2 separate regions of the Homo sapiens genome follow, and region 1 is linked to region 2. Evidence: fine-mapped expression QTL. A gene starts in region 2. The other region holds a variant in brackets. All regions are shown on one strand. Distances are between the middles of the regions. Region 1 overlaps RHOD (ras homolog family member D). Region 2 holds the start of KDM2A (lysine demethylase 2A).

Region 1 (5,364 bases), 48 kb after region 2:
CCCAAAGTGTTGGGATTACAGGTGTGAGCCACCGCGCCCAGCCGAACTGGACCATTTCTTTTGCGCTGATACACATGATCCTTAATGAGAACCAGCTGCTGACACCTGTCCCGGAAGTTTCATCAGAAACAGCTCCAGGTGGGGGACTGCTTCAGCAACGTGGGGCCTCACAGCTCAGATTACAGGGCCGAGCTGCCGCAAGTGAAATAGTGTTAGGGGCCAACGTGGAAAACCCTACCTAGATTCCAGTCCCCACTGTGAGGTTTCTTTTTTTAAAATTTTTATTATTTATATATTTTATTTTTAAATTATTATTATTTATTAATTTATTGTTATGGTTCTTTTTTGAGACAGAGTTTTGCTCTTGTTGCCCAGTCTGGAGTGCAGTGGCGTGATCTCGGCTTACTGCAACCTCCGCCTCCCGGGTTCAAGTGATTCTCCTTCCTCAGCCTCCTGAGTAGCTGGGTTTACAGGTGCCCACCACCATGCCCAGCTAATTTTTTTGTATTTTTAGTAGAGATGGGGTTTCAACATGTTGTCCAGGCTGGTCTCGAACTCCTGACCTCAGGTGATCTACCCTTCTCAGCCTCCCAAAGTGCTGGGATTACAGGCGCGAGCCACCACACCAGGCCCCACTGAACTTTTAATCTCACCTGCTCAGGGATGGGAAACAACTTTTCCCAGCTTCCATTTCCAGCCTGATTGCTCTTCCCCTAAGCATACCCTGCACCCAGAATATTCTTCCCTATTCTCCCCAAGCCTAGTGAGCTTAACCTAGCTCAGACAGCTCTCCTCTGTAACTTCCCTGTGTTCTTGGAGCCCTTGATGGTTTTGCTGTTATGCTTTTTATGCAGACTTCTTGCAGATTTTTCTTCTTGCACAAGCCTCAACTGCTCTGAAGTCAGAAGTCAAGATCCTTTTTTTTTTTTTTTTTTTTTTTTTTTTTTGACAGAGTCTCGCTCTGTCACCCAGGCTGGAGTGCAGTGGCGTGATCTCAGCTCACTGCAACTTCCACTTCCCGGATTCAAGTGATTCTCCAGCCTCAGCCTCCCAAGTAGCTGGGATTACAGGGACGTACCACCACATCCAACTAATTTTTATATTTTTAGTAGAGACCGGGTTTCACCATGTGACCACTAGGCTGGTCTCGAACTCCTGACCTCAGGTGATCCATCCGCCTCAGCCTCCCAAAGTGTTGGAATTACAGGCGTAAGCCAACACACCCGGCCACTTTTTTTTCTTTTTTTTTTTTTTTTTCTGCTTTGTAGCCCAAGCTGGAGTGCACTGGTACAATCGTGGCTGGGACAGGTGTGCCACAGCACCTGGCTACACCTTTTTTTTTTTTGAGAAGGAGTCTCGTTGTGTTGCCTGGGCTGGAGTGCAGTGGTGTGATCTCGGCTCACTGCAACCTATTCTCCTGCCTCAGCCTCTGGAGTAGCTGGGATTACAGGTGTGGGCCACCACGCCTGGCTAATTTTTGTATTTTTAGTAGAGATGGGGGTTTCACCATGTTGGTCAGGCTGGTCTCAAACTCCTGACCTCGTGATCCACCCACGTCGGCCTCCCAAAGTGCTGGGATTACAGGCATGAGTCACTGTGCTCGGCCCTGGCCGAACCTTTTGTGAGCACTTACTGCGTGCTAGGCACCTACTAAGCTCTTTGCGTGTGTTGGTCCTCATGACCCTCTTACTCATCCGAAAGTTCCATGGCTTAGTCTGTGATCCATTTCACAGGTGAGGAAGCTGAGGCCCAGAAGAACTTGCCCAAGGTCGTGGAAGCAATAAAGCTGGTTTGGATCCAAGCAGTCCCATCCCAGTGCCTAGATGGGGTGGGCTTTTACCTACCTTGGAACGTGTGTGTAAAGACACCTTGAAACAAGAGGCATAGGCAGGGCGTGGTGGCTCATGGCTGTAATCCCAGCACTTTGGGAGGCCGAGGCGGGTGGATCATGAGGTCAGGAGTTCGAGACCAGCCTCACCAACATGGTGAAACCCCGTCTCTGCTAAAGAAAATACAAAAATTATCCGGGTGTGGTGGCGCGCGCCTGTAATCCCAGCTACTCAGGAGGCTGAGACAGGAGAATCGCTTGAACCCAGGAGGCACAGGTTGCAGTGAGCTGAAATGCGCCACTGCACTCCAGCCTGGGCGATAGAACGAGACTCCGTCTCAAAAAAAAGAAAACAGAAAAAAGAGGCACGACACAATGATAAGTGATGTCGTTTTTCTTGTTACAGTTACCAGTATGACAGGTGGGAAGGGGCCGGGTGTGGGTTCTGGCCAGAGGGACCTAAGAACATTAGGTCCTGGCAGGTGCAGCCCTGGGAGCAGCCACGAGGGGGCATCAGGCTGCACAGGCGGCTCCAGGATGTCGGTCCGGGACCGGGCATAGGGGTTAGCGAGTGATTCTCGGGCACCGCAGGACGAGCCCTACACAGAGCAGGTGGGCCCAGGAACCCCCTTTCTCAGTCCAGGACTCCCAGGCCTCA[G/A]GGCCTGGCTTTGGTGGCGCCCGTCTGTTGCAGTGGAGTTCGGCGGTCACAGCCTAGGGACCGGGTCCAGCCCAGCCAGCTCAGCAGCAGGTCAGCGCCCTGCCCCTTCCCGCGTCGCTGGGACGCCCCGAGCCGCTCAGGTCACCACGCAAAAGCCCTGGGTAATCCGCCGCCAGAAGTTGCGACCGCGGCTGCTGAGGGCCACCTCGGCGGCCTCCTGGAAGACGGCGTGGACGTTGTCATGGAGCCGAGCCGAGCACTCGAGGTAGGCCACCGCGCCCACGGACCTCGCCATCTCCTGGCCCTAGAGGGAGAGGTGGATGGGGCTGCGGTGAAGGGGGCACTGGGCAGGCCTCACGTTCTCGCTTCCTTTTCCCGGACAAGAGTGGAAGGTGGGGTCTGCGGAGCACCCATGGCTCCCGTATCCCTGCTTGCCCAAGCGCCCTCATGCACTTCATCATGTTTGTTTTTCTTTTCTTTATTTTTATTATTATTATTTTTTTGAGACGGAGTCTTGCTCTGTCGTCCAGGCTGGAGTGCAGTGGTGCGATCTCAGCTCACTGCAGCTCCTCCAACCGGGTTCAAGTGATTCTCCTGCCTCTGCCTCCAGAGTAGCTAGGACTACAGGCACCCGCCACCACACCACTTGGCTAATTTTTTGTATTTTTGGTAGAGACAGGGTCTCGCTATTTTGCCCTGGCTGGTCTCGAACTCCTGACTTCAAGTGATCCACCCACCTCGGCCTCCCAAGTGCTGGGATTACAGGCGTGAGCCCCTGCGCCCTGCCAGCCTTCGTTGTTTTTAACCTCCGTTCTGGGCCTCTTTGCCTCTCAAGGCACCAAGAAATGAACTTCCCATGAACCCAGACGTGTAGCAGAGAGGGACCCACGGTCTGAATATGTGGGTGCCTGCCTGGGCCCCCTCTCTGGGTCTCAGGTTGGTGGTGGAACTGACTCTGATATGCCTACTTCCTTGTTCTCCCTTTTGCCTGTGGAGGCTCCCAGAATATTCTAGGGACCATTTCTAAGTGCTGGAAGTTTCTGACCTCTGACAGCCTCTAAGACGACCGCAGCTCTGACCTACACCCTGAGCGTTCTGGACACCTGGTGCCACTGAGAGGCATCCAGAGGTCCCCTCACTCAGTCCTCCCCAACTCCCACCTCGGGCTGGGTTTCCTACCCTGTGGTAGGTCACAGGCTCCAATCCGTTTCTTCGGAGCTTGTTCACCAGTGATTTGTCCTTGCGCAGGTCAGTCTTGCAGCCCACGACGATGATGGGTACCTTCTTGCAGAAATGATTCACTTCTGGGTACCACTGCAGGGGGGCGAGGGGGCATGTGGGGGGCATGTGTGAGCCCTGGAGAGTTCTGGCCCTCTCAGTGGACCACTCTCTTGCTCCCCAGCCTGAGCTCTGATATGGATAATCAGCAAAGCCAGCACCTAGGGAGAAACTATTTGGTACCAGAACCTCATCTAAGAATTTACACGTATGGACCCATTAATTCCCCGAGGCCGTGGCAGCAAGTTCACAACCAATCCCACTGTACAGGTGCGGTAACTGAGGCACAGAAAGGCGATGTAACTTGGCCTTGGCTGGAAATGGCAGGATTTGAGCCTGGGGGTGGGGCTCAGAACCCTGCTCCTGCCGTTCTAGAATCTTTCCTCTCTGCAGGGTAAGGGCCCTCATGGACACCCACCAAACTGAGCAAAACATATAAGGAAGTAAGGGATCCTTTAAAAACAAATCTGGGCCAGGTGTGGTGGCTCACGCCTGTAATCCCAGCACTTTGGGAGCCTGAGGCAGGTGGAACACCTGAGGTCAGGAGTTTGAGACCAGCCTGGCCAACAGTGAAACCCTGTCTCTAGTAAAAATACAAAATTTAGGTGGGCATGATGGCGGGTGCCTGTAATCCCAGCTGCTCGGGAGGCTGAGGCAGGAGAATGGCATGAACCTGGGAGGCGGAGGTTGCAGGGAGCTGAGATCGCGCCACTGCATTCCAGCCTGGGCGACAGAGTGAAACTCCATCTCAAAATAAATAAATAAATCAATTAAAAAGATAAAAATAAATCAATCAATCCAGGCCGGGCTCGGTGGCTCACGCCTGTAATCCCAGCACTTTGGGAGGCTGAGGGCAGGCAGATCACCTGAGGTCAGGAGTTCGAGACCAGCCTGGCCAACAAGGGGAAACCCCGTCTCTACTAAAAATACAAAAATTAGCTGGGCGTGGTGGCGTGCACCTGTAGTCCCAGCTACTCTGGAGGCTGAGGCAGGAGAATCGCTTGAACCTGGGAGGCGGAGGTTGCAGTGAGCTGAGATGGAGCCACTGCACTCCAGCCTGGGCTACAGAGTGAGACTCCGTCTCAAAAAAATAATAAATAAATAAATCTGCTCACAAAATGGTTGCAGCAGCTGTCTGCCTCAACTGCTTGCCTGGTGGAGGGAGGGCTGCTCTGCAGAATGTGAGGCCACCAGGGCCGAGTTCTTTCAGCCTGGACTACAGCTGGGGAGCCGGGGATCCCGGGAGGGGGCTTCCTATCTCCAGGAGCACTAAGTCGGCTGAAGTCGGCTGGTTTGGGCATGAAACTTGCCTGATAAAAATTGGCATCAGCCGGGCTTGGTGGCTCAAGCCTGCAATCCTAGCTACTCGGGAGGCTGAGGCAGGAGAATCGCTTGAACCCAGGAGGTGGAGGTTGCAGTGAGCCCAGATTGTACCACTGCACTCCAGCCTGGGAGACAGAGTGAGACTCTGTCTCAAAACAAACAAACAAACAAACAAACAAAAATTGGCATCAAACTACCTCATTCCTGGAAGCAAATGGGGCCTTTGTGGGGTCCCTGGCAGATTCCCCACACCCCCGCATCCACCGAAACTGCCCAT
Region 2 (5,326 bases):
TGAACTATCCTTCCTCAAACAGCTTTGCCCCCAAAATTTATATTCTAATCTAACGTAATCAGATGTATTACAATGTCAGTACTGTAAAATCAGGAATCTTTGTCACATTGTAATCCACAAAATCCTTTGGTATACAATGGTTTCTATAAAAGCTAAAGGCTACATATAACTCCATTTCCAAACAAGATAAATATATAAAATATAAAACATGTTTGGCCAAAAGCCAAATTCGATATTAATACACCTTTCCCCCTCCTCTGGTGCACAGAAAAGTCACCCGAAAAGTTTTAATCACAGATTCACAGTATATTCACAACTGGAAACAAAATAGTTATCCTACTTTAAAACTGGAGGGTGTGGTGGGGGGAGAAAATACTAACCAATCTCTGGCTGTAACGAATCCTTTCTTCTTCGGGTTCCATCTCTCACTCTTCTGTTGAAATTACTGTAAAGAAACCACTCCAGGGCTGCCTTCCTCTTCCTCCTTAGGAACCAGATTGCAACACTAAAGAATAATGATATAAGCAGAAATGAGAACTCATTCTCAAACTTGTGCTTTCTGTTCACGGAAAGGAGTATTTAAGGTAAGTGTTAAAGGCTCTCTGAAAAATCAGGTTCCTCTTCATGAGTTTGGGACCTTTCTGCTCTTGGGCAAGTGGTTCCATGTCATGTTCAACATTAATCACATTACAACTGTCGGAGGCCTAGACGAAACGAGATGTTGGTTTCAGTTCCTTGTGGAAGGGCCACACCACCAGTTTCTCCCCACAGGATTACAACTAGCAAGGATCTCCTTCATGGCAGCATCAGCAAGAAAAAAAAAAAGCCCAGGACTTTTATCTCCAGAGAGCTGACCAGGTGAAGCACCACTGAACTAATCCAGATCCTAACCAAATTAGTTCTCTCTCACCGGTAATCAGAAACTAAAGGAAAGAAGGGCAAACTGACTATGTAAAAAGAGGACAAAAAATTAGGATTTAAATGACCCCAAAACAATTTCCCATACCCCTCCTGTAAGGCCGTGCACAATCGTCGCCTTCCTTTCTAGACTCCCCGGATCTTATCATTCCCAAATCTACCCTCCACCCCAACACAAGATGTGCACAACTCTGAAACAAATTTCAGAGGTGCAAATCAAGGACCAAAATTCCATCTGATCTTTTTGGATAAAGTAATAAAATAAACGATTGCATCTAAGGATACAAGGAAAATACATCTTGTCCAAAAATTAAATAAAAGACCGGCCGGCGCGACGGTCAATCCGTAATACCAAGAAAGGGTTTTCTTTTTTCTAAATATTCTCGTGGATAATGGCTTCCATTGAGAACACAGGTTCCCCCCGTTTTTGTCACTACATTACAGCCACGTTAACAGCATCCTTTCAAAACTGCTACGAGACCAGAGGACCCGATGACACAGTTTGCAGAGCAGTTAGAGGCAGAGCCCTCCCGGAGGAAGCCCTGGCCCGAAGTCGGGAGGGAAACCGTGCTTGCACCCCCTGGGCGACGACCGCCTGGGCATGGAGCAGCCAGGGCCGGAGAGGAAAAAGGGCGAATCTCGCTGGGCTCCCCCAGGAAAAGGCGTTTCAATGGTTCACCCATCGGAAAAAGAGATAGAAACTTTGCATTCAGTCTTTGGATAACACAGTCAACCAAACTTCCAAATGAGGGGGGGGAGGGGGAAACTCACCGGAGATTCTGCTCTTGAGTTCTTGTCCAAGTGAGAAGTAAAAGATTCCAAAGCTGAGAGGAATAATTAAATCCCAAACGTCGTCTTCGGTTTTTCCGTGGATCAACCCAGTATCCAGAGAGGGTCAGAGCGACCAGGAAAAGGGAGCAAACAGTTGCTGAATCAAACCTTCTCTTCTGGCTTTGGAGACCGGGAGTCGGAGGCGTCAGGAGAGAGGAGCGCGACCCCTCGGCGCCGAGCCCGGGGCGCCCCCGCCTCCCCCAGGCCAGCGGTCAGCAGCCCGGGCCCGAGCCCCGGGCCGGCCCCGGCCGCAGGGAGCGCCCTCCTCGCCGTGCCCTCGGCCAGCAGGGGCTGGTCGCCTGCGGGAGCAGCGGCCGATCAGCTGAGACCGGCCGGCCCGAGGCTCCCCGCGCCGCCCCGGCCCCCCGGAACGCGGGCCCCGGCCCCGGGGGGCGGACAGGGCGGGAGCGGCGCGGCGCGCCGGGATGGGGGCCCTGGCTCCCCTCGCGTCTCCCCCTCAGGTCTGGCTCCGCGCTGCGGGACGAGCCCCCCGGCTACTCCCCAGTCGCAGAAGAGGGATTCCGGGGGATGGGCCCCCTGGCGTTGCCCCTCCTCCCGGAGCGTCCCCTGCCCAGGAAAGACAGAGCGGCCACGGGCCCAGCCGCTGGGAAGGTGCTCCGAGAGCCGCCGCCGCCGCCGCCGCTGCCGGGGAGGGGTGTTGTTTCCCTCACACAGGAGGAGCCGCTGAAGCAGCCGCCGCCATTTTGAACCCGTCAGACTCTCACATACACACAGCTCCTCCGAGGCGCACTGCGCAGGCGCCACCTCCCCACCCCTCCTCCAGCTCGCCTCTCCACCCCCCCACCCCCTTCAGGCCTCCCTGCGCTTCTTACCGCTCTCCCGGGCGCGCGTGAACGCGCACGCGTCACTCCCCTCTAACGCGGACACACCGCCGGCGCGCGCACGCGCGGATGCGTCGGCCTCGAATCGCCCGCGCCCCGCGACGCCGACGCGGCTCCCTGCGCCCCCTCGCGTCAGGCCGCCCGCCCTCCCTCCCTCCCGCCAGCCCGCCGCCCCCGCTCCCCGTCGGCGTTCTTCCAGGGCTCGGGCCTGGCTGGCTGCTCGCGCCTGCGCGCAGGGCACCGATCCTCCTCCGCGCGCCCTCCCCCCACACACCCTCACACACACTTCGCCTCTGCGACCCCGCCCCTCGCGGCCAGCTGTGCTGGCCGCCCTCCCCCACCCCCCTGGGAGGGTGGTGACCCCCGACCCCCCACAAAGCACATCACCCCCCCCAAGCAGTGGGAGATCTGCGTCCCCTTCCCCTTCAACCGCCTTTGGCCCCAGGCTGCCCGTCACAGTCACACAACCTGAGGGCCGGGAGGCCTGGGCCAGGGCAACCGATACCCGCCTCAAAGCAGGGTCTCCCGGGGTCAAGCCGCCGGGCTGGGCCCGCGGGACCTGGGCTCCCGGCTCAGGCCTGCCCAGGGCGAGAGGGCGCAGGGAAGGGGCGCATGGCCGCCGGCTGCCCTCCCTTCGCGTGCCGGCCGGTGGGCCGAGGCCGGCTTGCCCGCCATTCCCGGGCAGGCCCCGGCGCCGCCGCCACGGGGCCCGTCTGCCCTGGGCCCGGGGGCTCCTCGGTGCAGCGGCCTGGCCCCGCCTCACCCACTGCTCGTCGCTCCGAAGGGGCAGGAAACAGGAGTAGCATGTCTGTCCTGGGCTCGGCTCCCCGGGGGTGCTGCAGGCGCTTAACAAGGGCGTCCACAGGTACCAGGCGCAGAAGCGGTCTCCGCGACGGCCCGGGGGCGGTGGCGGCCGGCGCGCCCACCGCCGGCCGGAGGCGCCCGGCGAGGTGGCCCAGGAAGCCCCCGCTCCTCGGCCACGCTCAGCTTTCCGCCGCGCCGGTGCCCCCGGCGGCCCGGGTGGGACGTGACCCCGCCCCCGGCGAGTCGGGGCGCCCCCCACGGAGGGGTGCGCGGGCCGCCCCCGGCCCCCGGCCCGACCCTGCCGCCCTGGGCCGTGGCGGGCGCGGGAGGCCCGGCCGGGAAGATGTCTCCTGTTGGTGCGCGCAGCTTCGCGCGGGGGTCAGCGACGGGGCAGCAGCCGCCCGAGCTGCGCCGGCCCTGCCCACGGACCGACTCCCGCGGCCCGACAGCTGCCCGACGGGCCAGCAGGCTCCGAACGTCGACGGAGCCCGGCCGGAGGTACCCGAGCAGTGCCATGCGAGCAGCCCAGCCGCGATCCGGGCATTTCCCCAGCCAATCTCTTGCTCTGGGGCCCGTTTAAATTCTAAATCCCACAAAGGACGGTGGCTGGGGCGTTACACATCGGGGTTGGCACTATTGGCTCCACTACGCCCTTGCTGAGCGGTGTCACACAAATCTTTTTCTCCCTGCCTTGGTTTCCCACTCTTTAAGCTCTGACTCCTGGAAGCAGGGAATGGAGCAGAGAGGTAGGGCATGGAGTGAATCATATAACCTGCATAAACAGCCATCAACTCTTTCAGGAGGACGTTAGCGAGACAATTAAAATAATGATACCTTCTAATTCTATCAAGGCTTGAACTCCAAGGTAAAAGCGCTACGTAAATGCAAGGTATTATTATTTATTACCACAGAAGGTTTTTCTGCATGCACAACTTGGGGAGTTTGTACAGACATTCTCTGCTTTGTTTCACAACATCCTTAGGAGACAAGCTAAAGTGCCTGTTAGCGCTATATTCATTTTAAAGATAGACAACTGAAGTATAGAAAGGTTAAAGAGCTTGCATAATTACTCCAACAGCCGACTGAAACATCTCACAAACAGCAAAAAAGGTTTGTTAATAAGATATCATCTTCTTGCGTTCTAGTCACTGGGAAATATTCTTTATTTTGATACCAGTTTTGTTCAGACTTCTTAGATTTTCAGAGCACTGATACGAAGAAGATAATCACAGAAACTGTATCAGATCTAAAGCCTCTTTAAATCTTTCCGACTATGGTAAAGTATATTTTAAAAGCAGCAGTCTCTCACACTGGTGCTACCAGATATGGCCCCATAAGCATCTGGCTCTCTGTAGTTATAGAAAAAGTCAGCAGCTCGTTTTGTTTGTTTTTTAAGCAGGAGAGAAAGCTTTTGCCATTGTCAGATTAAGTGTTGGGCCTTGTTGCTATTTGCAAAATAAACAGCTTTATTTCCTTCCCACTCACCCTTATAACCCAGGGAATACTTGGCGGCAAAGAGAAAGTCTCTAGGAGTAGCTCAACTTGGTCTTGCCCTTTTTCTTAACATTCAGACCCCCTTAAGTAATTAACCCTCAAGGAGGTGAGTTGCACACCCTTGGCAATCAGATACCTCCAAGTTTAATTCAGATGGGCATGCTGGGAGAACCCTAGAAAGGCTTTAGAACAGGCCGGGCGCGGTGGCTCACGCCTGTAATCCCAGCACTTTGGGAGGCCAAGGCAGGTGGATCACCTGAGGTCAGGCGTTCAAGACCAGCCTGGCCAACATGGCAAAACCCTGTCTCTACTAAAAAAAAAATACAAAATTAGCCGGGCGTGGTGGTGCATGCCTATAATCCCAGTTACATGGGAGGCTGAGGCAGGAGAATCACTTGAATGCAAGAGGTGGAGGTTGCAGTGAGCCGAGATGGCGC

The links.
Region 1: its variant is fine-mapped to the expression of KDM2A in whole blood (TOPMed, PIP above 0.99).

Annotation. Positions count from the first base shown.
Region 1 is chr11:67,068,861-67,074,224 of GRCh38, reverse strand. RHOD (ras homolog family member D) reads right to left here. Exons shown (of 5, transcript NM_014578.4): 4 at 3,666-3,800; 5 at 2,208-2,790. The coding sequence ends at 2,623. Among named protein-coding and RNA genes, the nearest start is that of RHOD, 15 kb to the right of the region's middle. RefSeq lists an enhancer at 1-304. The variant G/A (reference allele first, on the strand shown) is at 2,487.
Region 2 is chr11:67,116,413-67,121,738 of GRCh38, reverse strand. It overlaps KDM2A (lysine demethylase 2A), which reads right to left and starts at 2,476. Exons shown (of 21, transcript NM_012308.3): 1 at 1,690-2,476; 2 at 381-505. The coding sequence starts at 422. It overlaps LOC107984341 (a long non-coding RNA gene), which reads left to right and starts at 3,391. Exons shown (of 2, transcript NR_160735.1): 1 at 3,391-4,505. RefSeq lists silencers at 1,335-1,424, 1,950-2,089, 2,270-2,339, 2,480-2,919, 3,100-3,379 and 2 more and an enhancer at 2,990-3,039.